Linked DNA regions of Homo sapiens: region 2 is linked to region 1. The links come from fine-mapping of genetic effects on gene expression. Tissue or cell type: whole blood. Region 1 holds a variant in brackets; the other region holds the start of a gene. All regions are shown on one strand. Distances are between the middles of the regions.

Region 1 (8,182 bases):
TATTAAGGGACACGAGTAACCACCCATGTCCCATAATGGCCTTTCTGCTGCCTGAGGTAACCAGGCTTGTTGGAATGGCATCCACAGTGAAAATCGGCTGGCTCTGGTTCAGGTCCCAGCAGCTCCACTTGGAGCCTGGTGCGCAGGCTTTACGACATCTACTACAGCTTGCAGAGATCTTCTTGGTTCCTTTAAGGTTCTGAACAAAGACAAATGTTTACTAAACACACACGTGGTACGCCAGGGCCTGGGTAAGGACCCAGTCTCCTAAAACTAATATGACTCCACACTGCTCTCAGTAAGCTCATGGACATGCAGACACAGCACATCGCCACAGTGTGTTAAGTGCAGTGGAGAGGTACAGAAGGTGTTATGGGGACACCGAGCAGGGCATCTGAGCAGCCTGGAGGTGGAGGTGGAATTTGGCAGGTGGGGTTTGGGGGGAAGCTTCTGAGAGGAGTCAATTCCCCAGCCTAGAAGGATGAGGGTATGCAAGTCAGGCTGGAGTGGGGACTGAGGTGGGAGGTGTCAGGAAGACTGTGCAGTTGAAGTGTAAGATGTCAGGCAGACGGGAGGGACTGCGAAGGCAGGCAGGTTGTCAAGCGCTGGAGTGGGTGAGTGTGAGGCTTCGCTGTAACTGTACTGCTGTTTTCAAAATGAAATGCAGAAAAAGCAAAAAGCTACTTAGGGGTGCTTTCACAGGTCACCCACAAATGAGAAGTGCAGGGTCTCTGCTGCCATTAATAAACATGATCACTCACTACCAGTCTCTACTAGAATTATAAGCCCAGTGCCTGGGGTAAAACAGGTGCAGCTATGGTGCTTGGCTTGAAAAAGACTCCAGTAATGTTGGAACTTGCCACATAGAATAAAACAACATCAGCTACAAAAGCAAATCACTCCAGCAAAATTAATTCCAAAGGAGTAAAACTTCTCATATTTAGTGAATGCCCTTTACAAAGCAAAGACCTGTATTTGAAGCTCTAAAAGGAGGCAAAAGATAACCTCTCACCTACAGCTCTACTCTCAGTCTGTGCTATTTAAGAATTAGTATCACTGATGACTCAACAAACACCAAATCATGCTTCACAAATTCAATTGTGAAGCAACTAGGTGAAGCATTTTTTGGAAATCCTGCATTTAGGGAAGTACTGGAAGATGGATTATGGTTGTAGTGAGTCACTCCTATGGCAGAGAGGGGTTTCCCAAATCCCACTCTAGACAGAGATGGCAAAGATGACTGTTTCTGTATTTAAACCTGTGCATAGAACCATTTTGGTTTTTCTAAAGTCCATTTTCCTAGAAACTGAGCCTGCACATCTGTACAGCTTTACCTGAGGCTTTTGGCTTCTGTCAGGTGAAGTCTGCCCTGACCTGTGTGGTAGGAAATCTCAAGGCCAGGAGACCGGTTTAACATCACTTCTAAAGCCAAGTGGCTAAGCCCTTTGTCCCTGCTCCTCTCTTTTGTCCCTGATTCAGCCAACCACAAGTACAAGTCATTAACATGGGGTGATGAACACCGGTGGGAGTGAAAGCAACTCAGAAATCCCTTTGTCCCACACCTGGTGTGAGTTACAGGTGTGGGAGGCAGAGGAGCTGCTGCCTGGTGATAATAGAATTCCTGTCGTCACTTGCTCTGATGCCACTGACCTGCTGCAGTCTGGGTCCACTCTCTGCCCTGGCTATCAGTTCAGAACTATTCCTTCCCCAGGCCCAAGGGGCTAAAAATATCCCCCGAATAATGGCTGTCAGTATAAGTAAGGTGCATTCCCTAAGGCCCCCTCATTAAGGGCTGTTCGATAGGAGTTAAAGCTGATGGGCAATTTGTATGAACAAGAGACATAACATCCGGGTGGATGAAAGTGCTATGCCAGGATGGTACCAGTGACAAGATGATACTAACTAAGGAAAGTGACTGGAGAGCGAGCATGGACCAGGCAGGGCAAGATCCTGTAAGGTCACTGGGGCAAACATCTTTGGAGGCATCTGCTCAGCTCATGGTGATCCCTTCCTCAGCATTTACCCATGCTCCAGCCTGGCCGCATGGGTAAACGCTCAGCATCTGTGCACAGCCAGTTAGATCAAGCTGCACCTGCTCAGAGTCTCTTTTCCAGAAAACTGAAACTGAGGTAAAAAGCTTTTAATTTAGTCTAGGCTGTGTGCAGGAACTGAGGAAACATGAGTTAGGAAACGGAAACTGCTTTTGCAGTGTAAACGTGGGAAATGCCTGGGTATAAGAGAGTGGAGAAAGACTGGGTGGGTGGATGGACAGGTGGGTGGGTGAAGGAGAAGAATGAAGCAGAAACATAGAGTGAGGCAGAGACAAGAGATCAGGGAGGGTGAGTGAGCCAAGAGCAAAACTGCCAGGGTTCCTCATGTCTTTCTGGTTTCAGATCAGCCGAGAGAGCTGGCCAACTCCTGCCCTTGGGTTGCATGAGACATCCGTTGTACCTCTGAATCTTTATTTTTAGTTCTTTTTTTTGCATAGCCTTAAGAAAGTTTTCTTACTACCTGAAGTAAATTTTCTGCTACCAGGAGAATTTCAGCTAAAATACACACAATTTTTGTTTTTCTTTTTGAGACAGGGTCTTGCTCTGTCACCCAGGCTGGAGGGCAGTGGCAGGATCATGGCTCACTGCAGCGCTGAACTTCTGGGCTTAAGTGATCCTTCCAACCTCAGCCTCCTGTGCGGCTGGGACCACAGGTTTGTGCCACCACATCTGGCTAATTTTTTGTATAGACTGGGTATCTTTGTGTTGCACAGGCTGGTCTTGAACTCCTAGGCTCAAGCAATCCTACCTCGGCCTCCCAAAGTGCTGGGATTACAGGCGTGAGCAACCATGCATGGCACACACACCCATTTTTAAGGGGTAAGAAGTTTCCTTATTTATTTATAAATCTGGGATAATAACATCTATAACTACAGTGATCATGTAAAGATTAAACCAGAAGCCAAGTGCCTCATACAGTGCCAAGCCCAGAAAAGAATCTCAATCAATAGAAGCTATTGGTACCACTACATTATATAAAGAGGAGATTTTGTGCCCAGTGCCCAAGTCCCTGGTATGACTAAGAGGAAGCCCAGGGCAGTGGCGACACCTGGGCTCTGGGCCAGGATGCTTGAGGTCCAAGAGCAACTCCTGCTGTGCTGTATTTAGCTTCTCTCTCACAAAACTCACTTCTGCAAAATGGGGATAATAAGACAACCCAACTCACAGGTTTGTGAGGATTAAATGATTTAAGCTAAGGGCTTTGAATAGTGTCTGGCATACCATAAGTGAAATGCTCAAGAAATGTTAGCAACTATTATTATCCTCATCATCATGAGTGCATCCACTGCAGCTTCAGCCGCCATGGCCGTCTGCTCCCAGGGCTCCAAAGGGCCTGATGCATGAGGCATAGGAAGGCCCCTTGGCTGTGGCTGTGGCACACGTGGCAGTGAGCTGCATGCACTGGGTCTCGAGGCCTCCTTCACAGACCTCCAAGACTGGCGGAGGTACACACACACTCACAAGTGGACAGGAATGAAACAGCAGCCGAAACAGCAACTGCAGCAGCTCCCCCAACCCTCAGTGTGGGACAAGGGTATAGAGGGTCGAAGGAGGTGGAAGGAGTCCTAGCCCAGCTGTTGGGACACAGGGATGTTTCCCGATGCTATATGGTAATGGCCTTGACCGGGTAAGGACTTTTCTTTCTGGGAAATGCTTGCTAAGCAAGGGGTTACAAAACTAGATTTGATAACCAAAACATACTAACAAAGGTTTCAGTTCTGATAAGTTTTCTAACACTGACTGGTAATTCATATTTTCTATTTTAGGGGCTTTATAATAATTATTATTGCAAAACAAATGCCCTCCTTATGTACTAAAAACATATTACTGTAAGCGAGACTTTTTATAGCAGTTATTCTTCCTTTCTATAAAGTTGATTCAATCTCAGAACCAGATTGCAAAGATTTGTCTCCATTTAAAGAAAAAATCTGTTGTCTCTATGATTTAAAGACTGCATTTGAAGATGTATCATTCCAGAAACCAAGGCAGTAGGAAATAGCCACCATACTCAGAATTATAGTGAGGATGCAGATTACCTTTTGGAAATAATTCAAAGATAGACATAACACGTAAAAGTTATGAAAAATGTAGCTATTGCTTTAAGGCAATGTTAAGCTGGGAGCCACATCTATTCTTACTTACCCAAGTTCTAAGAACTGCCTTGGAGTATTTCTACATGAATAACAAGCTCATGCTGTATGAAAAGCTGCAGAGTGCTATTGACGGCTGGGGGAAAGGAGAAGGAAATCTCCGTAACAGATAGCAGTGTTGAACTTCTCCTAAGTACCGTTGCTTTATTATTTTTCTCAGACAAAGTCATCTACAGGGTGAGCAGGGAGTTCAAAT[A/C]AACAGGAAACAGTTACTGACGTCAAAGAGGTCACAGTGGAAAAGCACCCGCATGAGGAAATCTGATTGCACCATGTCTGAACTGGAAATAACTTGAATTTAACCACATTAAGAAAGATTACAAAGGCTTCAAGGAAGAAACAATGAGAAGGAGTCTAATGGCTGCATTTTTTTTTTGAACTTATCATTTTGCACAGCCCAGAAGATGTCAGAGGTTAATTCAATCACCCAGCAACCCCTGTGTCAAGCCCACAGGCAAGATACATCCTGTCTGAGCTGAGACTAGTCTTTGGGAAGGTGAAATATGTCCTGAATATAACAAAGCCTTAGGACTTTGCATTTCAAACCTAGAGGGACACACAGCTCTTTTCAAAGACCAAGTGTTTTCCTAGTAATCTGGATGCATTATAGCCATCTCTCATAATGAAACCTGACAAGGCTTACTGGCATATATACAGTAGACCAGGGAAACAAAGAGGAAATCTACCTTGCAGTTTAACACACTGTGAAACATCCAGGCCAGGATGTTCTTTAAAGCATAAATAAGTGGTAACATATGATCAGGGGTACAGCAGAGTCAGAGCACAAGTCCCCTCTTCCTGATGGAACCTCCTTTGGCATTTCTGGTCCACATACAGCTTTCCAGTATCATTGTGTAGGGCTGGGATGGATCTGTGCACTTGGTCTTCTTTTCCATGGGGGACCGGAAACCCTTGAAGGCAGAGCCCAGATACTAAGTGAGATATCTTTAATAGCACCAAGCACAGTGCCTGGCCAATTGTGAGGGTTAATAAATGCTTCAAGAGTGAACATAATAGGAACCATTTTTGTCTCCTGGTAAAATTTAAAATGGAACTTTAGAAGAGCTGGAACAAACTGCCAAGATTCGTTTCACCCAACCATTTTACAGAAGCAAAGGGCAAAGAAGTGAAGTACCTTGCCCATAGTTAAAACAGTTTGTGGAAGAGTTAAGTAGGACAATCAGGTCTGCTGATGCTATATTTTCCTTTATAAAGCTTTGATTTTTCTATTTATAAAACTAATTACATATCCATAGTTCAAATGTAATTACAAAGTAAATAGATAGAAAATTGAGAAGAAAATAAAGAAAATTCAAATAAAATCACCCTAATCCTGACAACCAGATATAGAAGTCTCAAGCTTTTAGCTTCCAAAGAACTGGAGATTTCAGGGCAAATAAGAAGTTTTCAAGGTAATGTTAACTAGATTTAATTTTTCCTTTGTGTCCTAATTATACTTAACATTTTATAGCATGTTTTAAAAACAGAAAGGAAAAAGTAAAAAACATACACTTCTCTTTTCATTTATATTGCATATTATTTCCTGATATAATTAGTCATCAAGACCATGATTTTTTTAACAGTTGCATGCTATTCCCGATGCCAGTTCTATGAAGTCCTACAATTAGCTTGACTTCTAATTAGGTTAATGAAAATAAAAGGACACAGCTTTTATAGTCTCTATGCCATGATAAAGATCATTTTTTTAGCCTGGTAAAGCAGGCATCTCTCAGTGGAGATGATTGCTAACTGGGCACGGTGTTTTAATTGATTGGTCAATCATTTAGACATCACTAACCTTTAGAGCACCCCCTAGTGGTCGAGAAGAACGTTTGAACAAACCTCCTAGTCAAAAACTATCCACATTTGAAATACACTAAAACTTAAGAGTCACAAAGAAGATATCTTGGATGATTATCTACTTTTTAAAAAAGGTTTAGCAACTTAACAAAAGCATCCACAATAGGATTTCTTCAAGTCATTATTTCACATAGTGAAATTCTCTTTATAAAGCTTTTGGTTTAAGCATCAAATAGGATATTTATGGACTTAGTTTGTATAGGGCTTGTAGGATAAAGAGTAAAAATACCATTTCATTTATTTAGATCATTTTTCATGATGGAGATCCCTAAACTGTGTAAACTTTTAAGACAACCACAATTTCATTTCTCCCTCTGATCTATGTATGAATTCGACACTTATGCCATGTGGGAAGATATTTTGGGTTATAGTTGATTAGACACTTTGCCCAGTTAGAGAAGTAGAGACTATGGCCAAGAATATGCCATATCTGCCTCAAGGTGATGCCTGGGAATCTACTGGCTGAGAATTCATTTCCTCTCCCCCTGTCTGCAGTGCTGATGCACGGGCCGAAGTTTCTGTGTGGAATGTGCCTTTCACATGCTATTCTGAGTTTGATTCCTCCACTGTAGCCATGACAAACTCTTCTCTGGTCCTCTGGCTGGGGAACAAAATCTGTTCAAGCAAATGACATGCCCACAATTTCTTCCCAAACTATTAAAAAATTTTTTTAAAATTATACTTTAAGTTCTAGGGTACATGTGCACAACGTGCAGGTTTGTTACATAGGTATATATGTGCCATGTTGGTTTGCTGTACCCATCAACTCGTCATTTACATTAGGTATTTCTCCTAATGCTATCCCTCCCCCAGCCCCCCATCCCCTGCCAGGCCCCAGTGTGTGATGTTTCCCACCCTGTGTCCATGTGTTCAACTCCCACCTATGAGTGAGAACATGCAGTGTTCCCAAACCATTTTTGCAATCTGGGTTACATATTGATCTCCACTGTCAATTAAGGAAGAAAGTTGCAGACCTTACTCTAAAGGTATGGAGGCTAAATTAAAAGAGGTGGAGCTCTAACAGGAAGGGGAACAGTCATCAGAAACAGCTTAAAAGGTTTATATGGGAGAAAGCACATTGTGTTAACTTTGAAGGCAAGCTTCAGTTGGCTAAGTGGAGTTCAGACAGGTTCTTAAAACCCCAAAAATGAGCAGATCCTAAGATGGTGACACCAAGAACCTCATGCCGTATCCAATAGAACTCTGAGTCTGTTAGTGAACTGACTTCATCTCAGCACTTGATTTATCCTACTATGAAACCACTTCCTTCTGATTCTTCTTCTTTTTTCCACTCAACCTTAACCCTTACTTAGAATTCCTTCTTCAAGTCTCCTCTCTTCTCTCTCTATAAACATCTACTAAAAGATTTTTGATTTTTTTTTTTTTTAAGACAGAGTCTCGCTCTGTTGCCCAGGCTGGAGTGCAATGGCGTGATCTTGGTTCACTGCAACCTTTGCCTCCCGGGTGCAAGCGATTCTCCCTGCCTCAACCTCCTGAGTAGCTGGGATTACAGGTGCGTGCCACCATGCCCGGCTAATTTTTGTATTTTTAGTAGAGACAGGGTTTTGCCATGTTGGCCAGGCTGGTCTCGAACTCCTGACCTCAGGTGATCCACTCACCTTGGCCTCCCAAAGTGCTGGGATTACAGGTGTGAGCCACTGCACCTGGCCTGAAAGATTTTATATTATAGTTTCCACTTACCAAGAGGACATGGATGACACCAAACTGATCTCCCATCTCAAGTGTGTTTCTGACAAACAAGCATCTTACCACTGAATTTCCCCCAAACCGAACTCATGCTATTCCATTCTCTTTAGGCTTCCAAATGGCCAGAGCCCTGGCCATTCCCACTTAAAAAGTCCTATCATGTCTACTTCTTTAGTGTTTCCTTGACTCCACTCCCATGATTGCTGCCTTGGGGCAGGCAAGTTCCCAGATCACGGGCCCAGCATCCTCACCAGATCTGCTGCCATTAGCCTCCCTCTGTACATAGCAGCCAGAGAGAGCCTTCTAACATGCAAATCTTATGTTACTCCCTCACTTAAAGATTTTGCTGGCTCCTTTTACCTAAACAGTTTAGTCTAAGCTCCTCAGCAAAGGACATCAGACCCATTATGACTTTGC
Region 2 (8,182 bases), 220 kb before region 1:
ACCATTAGAGTCACAGACAATGGCGTTAAAAGTAAAGACAATGGAAGTTAACAGGTAGAAAAGTTGACATTCTCCAAACTGCACAAGGTGCTCTGCAGTGGACCGTAGGAATGAACTCCAATACTTTCTCAGTCTAAAATAACTCGATAGTTCAGTAAATACACACGTGTGGAAGAGTGCATAGACTTCATACAAATTGAGCCACAAAACAGACCAGTAAGACAAGCTTGAAGTCTTGCCTTCAGATGGAACCCAATGGTCTTAACTCTGGAGAAACTCATAAGCAAAGGACAGTTTTTCTACCACGTAGCTGCTTTACTGAGAATATTTTATCAACTCATTATCTTTTACAAAGGTTAATTTTTATAAAATTGTCTAAACTTTGGCATCAAGACGAAAAATGTTTTAACTTACTGCCAGTACTAAGAATGCAGTGTCTTGCACATATCTTGCTTAAATGAACAGTAAGACTAGAATACTGTGTATGTTTGACTCTAGAGTCCAGAGTAAACTCAGTATTCTATTTGGGGAGAAAACACAGGGGTGAGCAATTGTGAAGCAGGAGGCCTCCACTAGAGTAGAGAGCAGATCAGATGCTCAAGAAAAATAACTGATACTAGGTGCCAATATAACCCAAGGATGTACTCTTTTGCCCATTGTAACAGGAAAAAAACGCTTTTCAAGCTCTGGATCCAATGTTAGTCTTTTCACTTTCAGGAGATAGAAAAGATGCATGAAGACACAGAAAAGAAACTAAAGGAAACAGCTGGAAGGACTAGCAAAAAAGAGTTTTAAGAGTTGTGGAAGTTTAAACAAGAATTTTAACAGGTAACATCTATTTTCAAGTACACAGTGTCATCAAGACTCCTGCAATGGGCTAAGTGCTTCACAAGCATTATCTCATTTAACCTTTACAATAACTGCTCAGATGGCTGCTATTCTTATCATCATTTCAAAAGGAGGAAAGAGGCTCAGAGGCATTCAGTAACTTGCTCAAGCTCACAAGTGAAGGGCTGGGACCCTTAACTCAGAGGTATCTGCCTCTAGATCCTATGCTCTTAACCACCATATGCTGCTTCCTCAAACAAAAGGACAATCAAAATAGAATCATAAGGAGAAAAGTTTGCTAATAAATGAGAGAGCTTCTTGACTTTTAATGGCCAAAGTTAATGAAGGAAATTAAGGAATATCTATTCTCAGAAATTTTACTTTAATGATTCAGTAATTATTTGTTTTGGAAAACTCTGAAGGAGTCTGGCCTGAAGCCTGAAACAGAATCATTACTCTCTTGACATTCCCTTAAAAATCTAAAAATCAAAATGCACGTGCTATTAAATAAGTTCAGCCCCTATAACTAGGAACAACATGAAATGTCCTGCGTTAAATCTACAGTATCATAACCATACCCATTTTCTATTCTGATTTCTTCCAATTCTTCAGGTTTTGAGTTTCCTAGACCTTCTTTTAAAAAGACAAATTTGTTTTCCAAACTCCGACATTGGGAGCTCATTTAAAATGAAAAAAAAAATTGCTTGAAGAAAATCTCCGTCCCTCAACCTCTCAGTTATCTTTCAAAAAACTGTAAATTAGTTAGAAAAGGTCATCTATTATAAACAGCATCTAAAAGTGCTGAGTAACCACCACTTATTAAGTGTTTAACTTAATTTTTCAGTTATATCAAGAACTTCTATACTAAGAAATATGAATCCATCCAATCCAAGGTTGCCAAGTTTTCAAATGAGAAAATTTTGAAAGTAACAGATGGGCTGAGGAAAATCTAAGAGCTTATTTAGAATTGGGGCTGATGAACAGTAGCTAATTTATTAATTCGTTTCAAAACTGCTTCTGATATTCTGAACGGATGAATGGCAAAACAATGAGTTCGATACTGTATATAAAAAAAGTGGTACATAATTTAATGCATTGTATTAAGTATGATTCAATATATAATAAGGATAGAAAACTGGCACTACACAGAGGTAATCTGCCTTAGGTTTACAATATAGCAGCTTTATCATTTCATCAAAAGCACTGTAATCACCTCCGCAAAATAAACTGCAATTAATTCCTGGTAACTCTTGGAATTAATCTAGACCTGTTTGCTCACTTTTTGAATTTTATAAGTGACCTTCTCTGCTGTATACAAACTAAGAATTTAATATTCTATTGAAGAAGGACCAGGAGAAGGGATCTACAAAACAGCAGGAATATAAACAAGTTTATCTTCTGCTGATACTGATTAGGGAAATTAATCTCTCTGCCAGAAGAGTGGAAGGATTTAACAGCAAAGCCAGTCTACTAACCAAAACTCTTACTCTAAATCTTCAATTCCTTAAGTGATTTCCTTAAAAGTTAAAATGCCAAAGTGGGCAAAATTGTGTGTGTGTTGGGGGATGGGGGAGTCCGCTCTTAACACCACTGGTCCAACTCACAATTCTTAATCTCTAATGTACCCCTTAGACTCAAACTTCAAGGTGATTTATAAAACTTGCATTAAGTTCTAACCGAGTGATTACTTACTTTAGATATATGTTGACGGTTTTCCTTTAATATACTTCAATTTCAGGAAAATGAGACAGAGTTCGAAAATTTTTGCAACATTTTAGTGCCGCATTTCATTCACTCATCATATACTTTTTTCAGTATCATTAAAACTGCCTAAATTTAACCAGCCCCTACATTTTCATTATTTGAAGAATGAATGAGGCATATATTCATTTATAATATCTGCGTTCTCGTGACAGGTGATATGAACTCAAGTATCCAATTCTGAAGTTCTCTTTAAAATGTTGCCATTTCCCTAAATTCCCATTACTCTGACTCTCAGTCTAGGCAAGTTTTTCAAGGCGATTAAAACGAAACAAAACCTGCACGTGCAAACTAAAAAGTTCGCATCTTAAGGCCATCGCGGCAAATCCCTAATGCACAAAGGCAAAGACACCCGCGACGGCTGGACAACTACAGGACAAGATCGCATCCGACCACGCGAGTCCCTCAGTCGGGAACTCAAGGCCCCAAGTCCACTGGAAAGCCAGGACCAGCGTGCAGGGTCCGCCCCAGGGCCGAGTTTTCAATGGAACTGGAGAGGATGGGGGCGGGAAGGAGCGGAAGCTCCGGGTGCAAACCGCGGCTACCGAGCTGCAGCTCATTTCTCTTCCCGGGGTTTTCAGGCTGGGTAAAGTCCCCTCCGGATGGGGCCACAGAGCAGGCTGGGTTTTTGAGGCGGGTAGGTGGGCGGCGCGAGGCCCCCACGGCCGGCGGGGAGGGCAAGCAGGGCTCAGACCCCGGCCCCTGAAAGCACTTTCGAGGCGTCTCCCACCCCCCACGACAAGATGGCGACGTGGACAGCGGGGGAGCCCGGCCGGCGAGGTTGGGGGAAGAGAGGGGAGGGGAGCAGCAGCAGAAACAAAAAGGCTGCCCCCCCCAATCCCATTAACGCCGAGGCCGGCCCAGGAGCCCAGGGCGGGCAGGCGGGCGGGGTCGCCGGGGGAGAAGGCGGCGGGCCGAGGGAATGGGCTTACTTTTTCTTGTCGTTCGCGCCGCCGGCGCCCTCCATGGTGAATCGGTCCCCGCGATGTCTTCACGGCGGGCGGCCCCCAGGCTCGCTCCGGCCTAAGCGCTGGCTCCCTCCACACGCGGAGAAGAGAAGGAAAGGCAAGTCCAGAGGTGGGGGTGCGAGGCGGGAAACCCCTCGTGAGACTAGAGAGAAGCGGGCGGCAATCGCCGGGGTCCGGGCCCGGCTCCGAGCCTCTCCTCAGGTGGCTTGTCAGGGCCCAGCCCGACACACTGGCCGAAGCGACGAAGAGGGTGATCCTCCTGTCCCCTCAGACGAGGCAGCACTGTGCACTGAGGAGCTGAGGCAGCGTCAGGGGGCGGGCAAGGGCGGAGGCGCGCTCGGGCGCGCGGGGAGGGGAGAGGGGGCGGGAGCGCGCCCGCTCGCCTGCCCAGGCCGGCGCGCGCTCCCGCAAGCCCGCCTCACCTGAGGTGGAGGCGGGTTCCTCGAGATCCAATGGCGAGCGACGCAGGCGGCAAGTCCCCACCCCAGCCCACGCCGCTCTCAGCCAATCAGGAGGCGGTCAGCTGAGGCACAGCTGGGACGGGCTGCGACGCTCACGTGCTCGTCTGTGTTTAGCGGCGGAGGAAAGAGAAAGGAGATGGGGGTGCGGCTCAGCCCGAGTCTGGGGACTCTGCGCCTTCTCCGAAGGAAGGCGGTGCCCGGCTTTGGGAGGCGCTGCTGAGAAGGGATTTCGGTTGCCTGGTCCCAAACATGCATCATATTTTCCTACTCTTGGTGCAGTAATGTAATGCTCCTGCTCTCTTTCTCCTCGGCCTCAGTGCTGGGCACGATTGCCGCCCAACTCTGCTGGGCTCTCTGTTCAAAAAAGCAGACTTCGCCTCGTGGCAGCAAGCCCTTCCTTTGGTCTCGTTGCTCAGATGTGTTACAACGGGGTCTTTCCTTACCAGATTACCTAACCATGGGTCAATGTCACCCACCGCACTCTTTGCCACGGAGCACAGGGGAACTCACCTTGTCTACTAAGTTTTTCTGTGGCGGAGTTTACTTACTGAATAAATGCAATTAAAAATAAAAATGAACTCCTGTTGCTGTAAACTTCAAGGGAAATAAAGTTGCAGGGAAATCTTAAAATCTGAAACTATGTTAAGCATTTGCAAATAGGTATAAATGACTTTAATAAGCATATAAACCAATTTCAGGGAAAGAGTAGAAAAAATGGCCTTTGGCAACTTTGCAAGCTACTAAACAAAACATAATCACTTTTGTCTTTGGAGGCATAAACTTCAAGCCTGTCAGTCTTCTAAAAGAAAAATATGTTTTGAGCCCAACAAAGTAGCATTGCACATATATCTCCACTTGGCGCTAAATTATTTTACTTCTCACCTTTGCCTTATGAGTTTCTTGTTAAAACCTAGCTTTGGGTTGTAAATATAAATATCTGTAGTGGCTTTCAATTGTATTAGCATGTAAAAACAATGGTCTATATAGAAGCATCAAACTCTGACAAGACAACAACCAATGTATACAGCACCTCTTTTTAACTGGTCAGTAGACCTACAAAGATACGATTAAACATTGACCTTAGCGGACAGGGTGGTTCCAGCTACTCAGAGGTGTGAGGCTGGAGAAGCCTGGGTGTTCCAGCCTAGGGAACGTAGCGAGACTCCGTCTCTTTAGAAAATTTTTGATCTTCACGCTACTTTTGTTTTTTCAGATCTACAACACTAAATGATATGTATTATGTCTTGAAAAGAACCATGGGAAATGCCTGAAGAGAAGAAAGAACTAAAAATAATTACTCATAATTTCTTTTTTAATTGTGGAAAGAATACTGTAAATTAAAAACTTTTTAGTTTAACATTCTCAAGATACTGTGTTAAGAACACTGGCTCCAGAATCAAGCGTGAGCTTGTACACAGGCTTTGAATCTTACTGGCAAGTCGTTTAATCTCTCCATAACTCAGTTTACTTATTTATAAAATGGATATAAAAGTGTCTATACCACAGTATTATGGATGGTTAAATGAGATAATAAATGTATACTTAGAACAATATCTGGTGCATAGTAAGCACTCAGTAAATGTTAGCTCTTAGTATTGTTGGTGGCGTTATTATTATTATCATTATTATTATTCTGAGGCGGAGTCTCGCTCTGGCCCACAGGCTGGAGCGCAGTGGCGCGATTTCGGCTCACTGCAACTCCGCCTCCCAGGTACAAGTGATTCTCCTGCCTCAGCCTCCCAAGTAGCTGGGATTACAGGCACGCACCACCACACTCGGATAATTTTTCTATTTTTAGTAGAGACGAGGTTTCACCATGTTGGCCAGGCTGCTCTCGAACTCCTGACCTCAGGTGGTCCGCTCGCCTCGGGTTCCCAAAGTGCTGGGATTACAGGCATGAGCCACAGTGCCTGGCCTATCATCATTATTATTGCCCTCAAATTTATTCCTCTGTTAACAGTAATTACTCGGGCTTCTCCTACAGTTTAGCCATTTTTAACTATCCAAGAATACCAATTATGTTAATATAAATCCACATATATTCTCTATTTTCAACTTTGGAACTGCCCATCGTGTTCCCACCCTCATTTATGAGGATAGCTGCAGAGATCTTCCATCATTTCCCTTTTCATTATACTTATAGCAATTATCTCTGGCCAGTGATTATAGTATATAATGTTTGTGACATCAAAAGACAAGCATTTTGTAACAGTAAATCTAAGTCATTTAAAATTTTTTTGGATCATTTCAAAAGTTTAAAGCAGAATGATAATTTGATCAGCAAAAAAATTTTTGAATATTCATTAAATATGCCCTTAAGTTAATTTTCCTTTTCAAAAATGTATAAAATATATGTTTATGTATATGTGTATACACAAATATAAATATGAAAATGGAAAGGAAAGTAGTATATGTGTATATATATATATGTCTATACAAATATAAATATGAACATGGAAAGCAGTAATATTCAACCAACTAATTTTCATATAGTTACAAAGGCACCAAATAGTATCCCCTAATTCAAACAATCCTATTAAATAACAGACACCAAAAAGGAAAATTTCATATAGGATAAAATTTTAAATCCCTCTCTCTACAACCACTTAACAAATGCATTTAGGTTATTACTATGTAAGTATATCTTAACAAACAGTCATTTAATCACTTTCTAACTTTGCAGAACTTTCTGAGTAGACTACAAGATTACTTGCAAATGACCCCATTGACCCTTAGCCCGTATTTATTAGGAAATTGGGCAGTGAATCAGGAGGTTAAGTAAAACTTGAAATTTTGATTACTACTAAATAATACAGAGCATTGAGCCTTTTGAAGGTGAAATGCATCAGATGCACACAATTTATAGGGTATCAAACTATACAAGAAGACCTAGTATTCAGTAAGTGATTCCTGGCCTATTACTACCCTTAGTTGTTTCTTTTTCTTTAAGCTATTCATAACGAGAACAATGGCAGCAAAAGGGTATTGTTTGGAAGGAAAGTGCGTACAAGATAAGAGGCATTAAAAATCTTTGTTTTTTCCTTTCAAGAATCAAGACACAAAGTATCTGTGATTCCAACATTTTGGGAGGCTGAGGCAGGAGGATCACTTGAGGCCAAGAGTTTGAGACCAGCCTGGGCAACAAAGTGAAACTCCCATCTCTACAAAAAATTTTAAAAATTAGCTGGGCTTGGTGGTTAGTGCCTGTAGTCGTAGCTACTCTGAAGGCTAAAGCGGGAGGATCACTTTCTCCCAGGAGTTCGAGGCTGCAGAGATGTACGATTGTGCCACTGCACTCCAGCCTTGACAGAGCAAGACCCTATATCTTAAAAAAAAACACAAAAAACAAACAACAACAAAACCCACACACACAGACACACAAAATAAAATGTATATTTATCTGAGTTTAGGGGGAATATAAACAGACTGAAAATTTGATATTAGCACTTTTCAATTATGATAAATATTTTTAAGATGAATTTACAAAGGAACACCAAGGGGCTTTCAGTTTCCTGTTCAACATGTAAAGAGCTTGGAAGTTGTCACTCCCATCCTCACAACAAGAAAAAAAAAAGCTAAGCAAACTGAAATCAGTAACTCTTCTTAGATCCACCAGAGAATTGAGGTCACAGGAAAAACCACTGCCCTAAAAACTAGAGAGACAGACAGATAGATACAGAGAATCACAGCTTTTCAGAGAATCACAGTTTACCAGGAGCAGAGCCCAGGCACAGAAGCCAGAAGCTGAAGCTAGTTTCACAGCTGGAGCCAACATCAGTAGGAACACTAAACTGTAATTGGGGAATTGCTGGAGGCTCAGTGCAGACTAGCTTGAGAGTTAAAAAACTCCAAGGAGGCTCAGTCTGAGAGGGGCCTCAATACTTACCTCAGTTTTACCTCTGTGAATCCTGTCAGATTCTCACTGTAAAGATCTGAGAAAAATCTGCTTTGCTTTTGCCAGGGAGAAGGGGTAAGTAACCATCGTGAAATACTCTCAGGGCTCTCTGTTCTTCTTAACAAGACCTGGCCTCAAGGGAAACTCTCTATCAGAGCCTAACCAGATGAATCTACCAAAGGCTAACCAATCTGGAGGAAGGGAAATTACCAACTCTGGTCAGCTCTAGCCTTCCACAGGGGAGAAGGGAAATACTCAACTCAAGCTCA

The links. PIP is the estimated chance that this variant, and not a neighbour inherited with it, causes the effect.
Region 2: HIF1A starts here. The variant in region 1 is fine-mapped to the expression of HIF1A in whole blood (TOPMed, PIP above 0.99).

The regions. Positions count from the first base shown.
Region 1 is chr14:61,473,257-61,481,438 of GRCh38, reverse strand. The region is part of intron 9 of PRKCH (protein kinase C eta); the gene reads right to left. Among named protein-coding and RNA genes, the nearest start is that of PRKCH-AS2, 68 kb to the left of the region's middle. RefSeq lists enhancers at 1,715-1,884, 2,482-2,651, 3,729-3,788, 4,422-4,501, 4,612-4,711 and a cis regulatory region at 2,566. The variant A/C (reference allele first, on the strand shown) is at 4,398.
Region 2 is chr14:61,691,179-61,699,360 of GRCh38, reverse strand. It overlaps HIF1A (hypoxia inducible factor 1 subunit alpha), which reads right to left and starts at 3,848. Exons shown (of 15, transcript NM_001530.4): 1 at 3,522-3,848. The coding sequence starts at 3,556. HIF1A-AS1 (HIF1A antisense RNA 1) reads left to right here and starts at 3,538. Exons shown (of 2, transcript NR_047116.1): 1 at 3,538-3,654. RefSeq lists silencers at 3,390-3,489, 3,790-4,089, 8,016-8,182 and an enhancer at 4,160-4,529.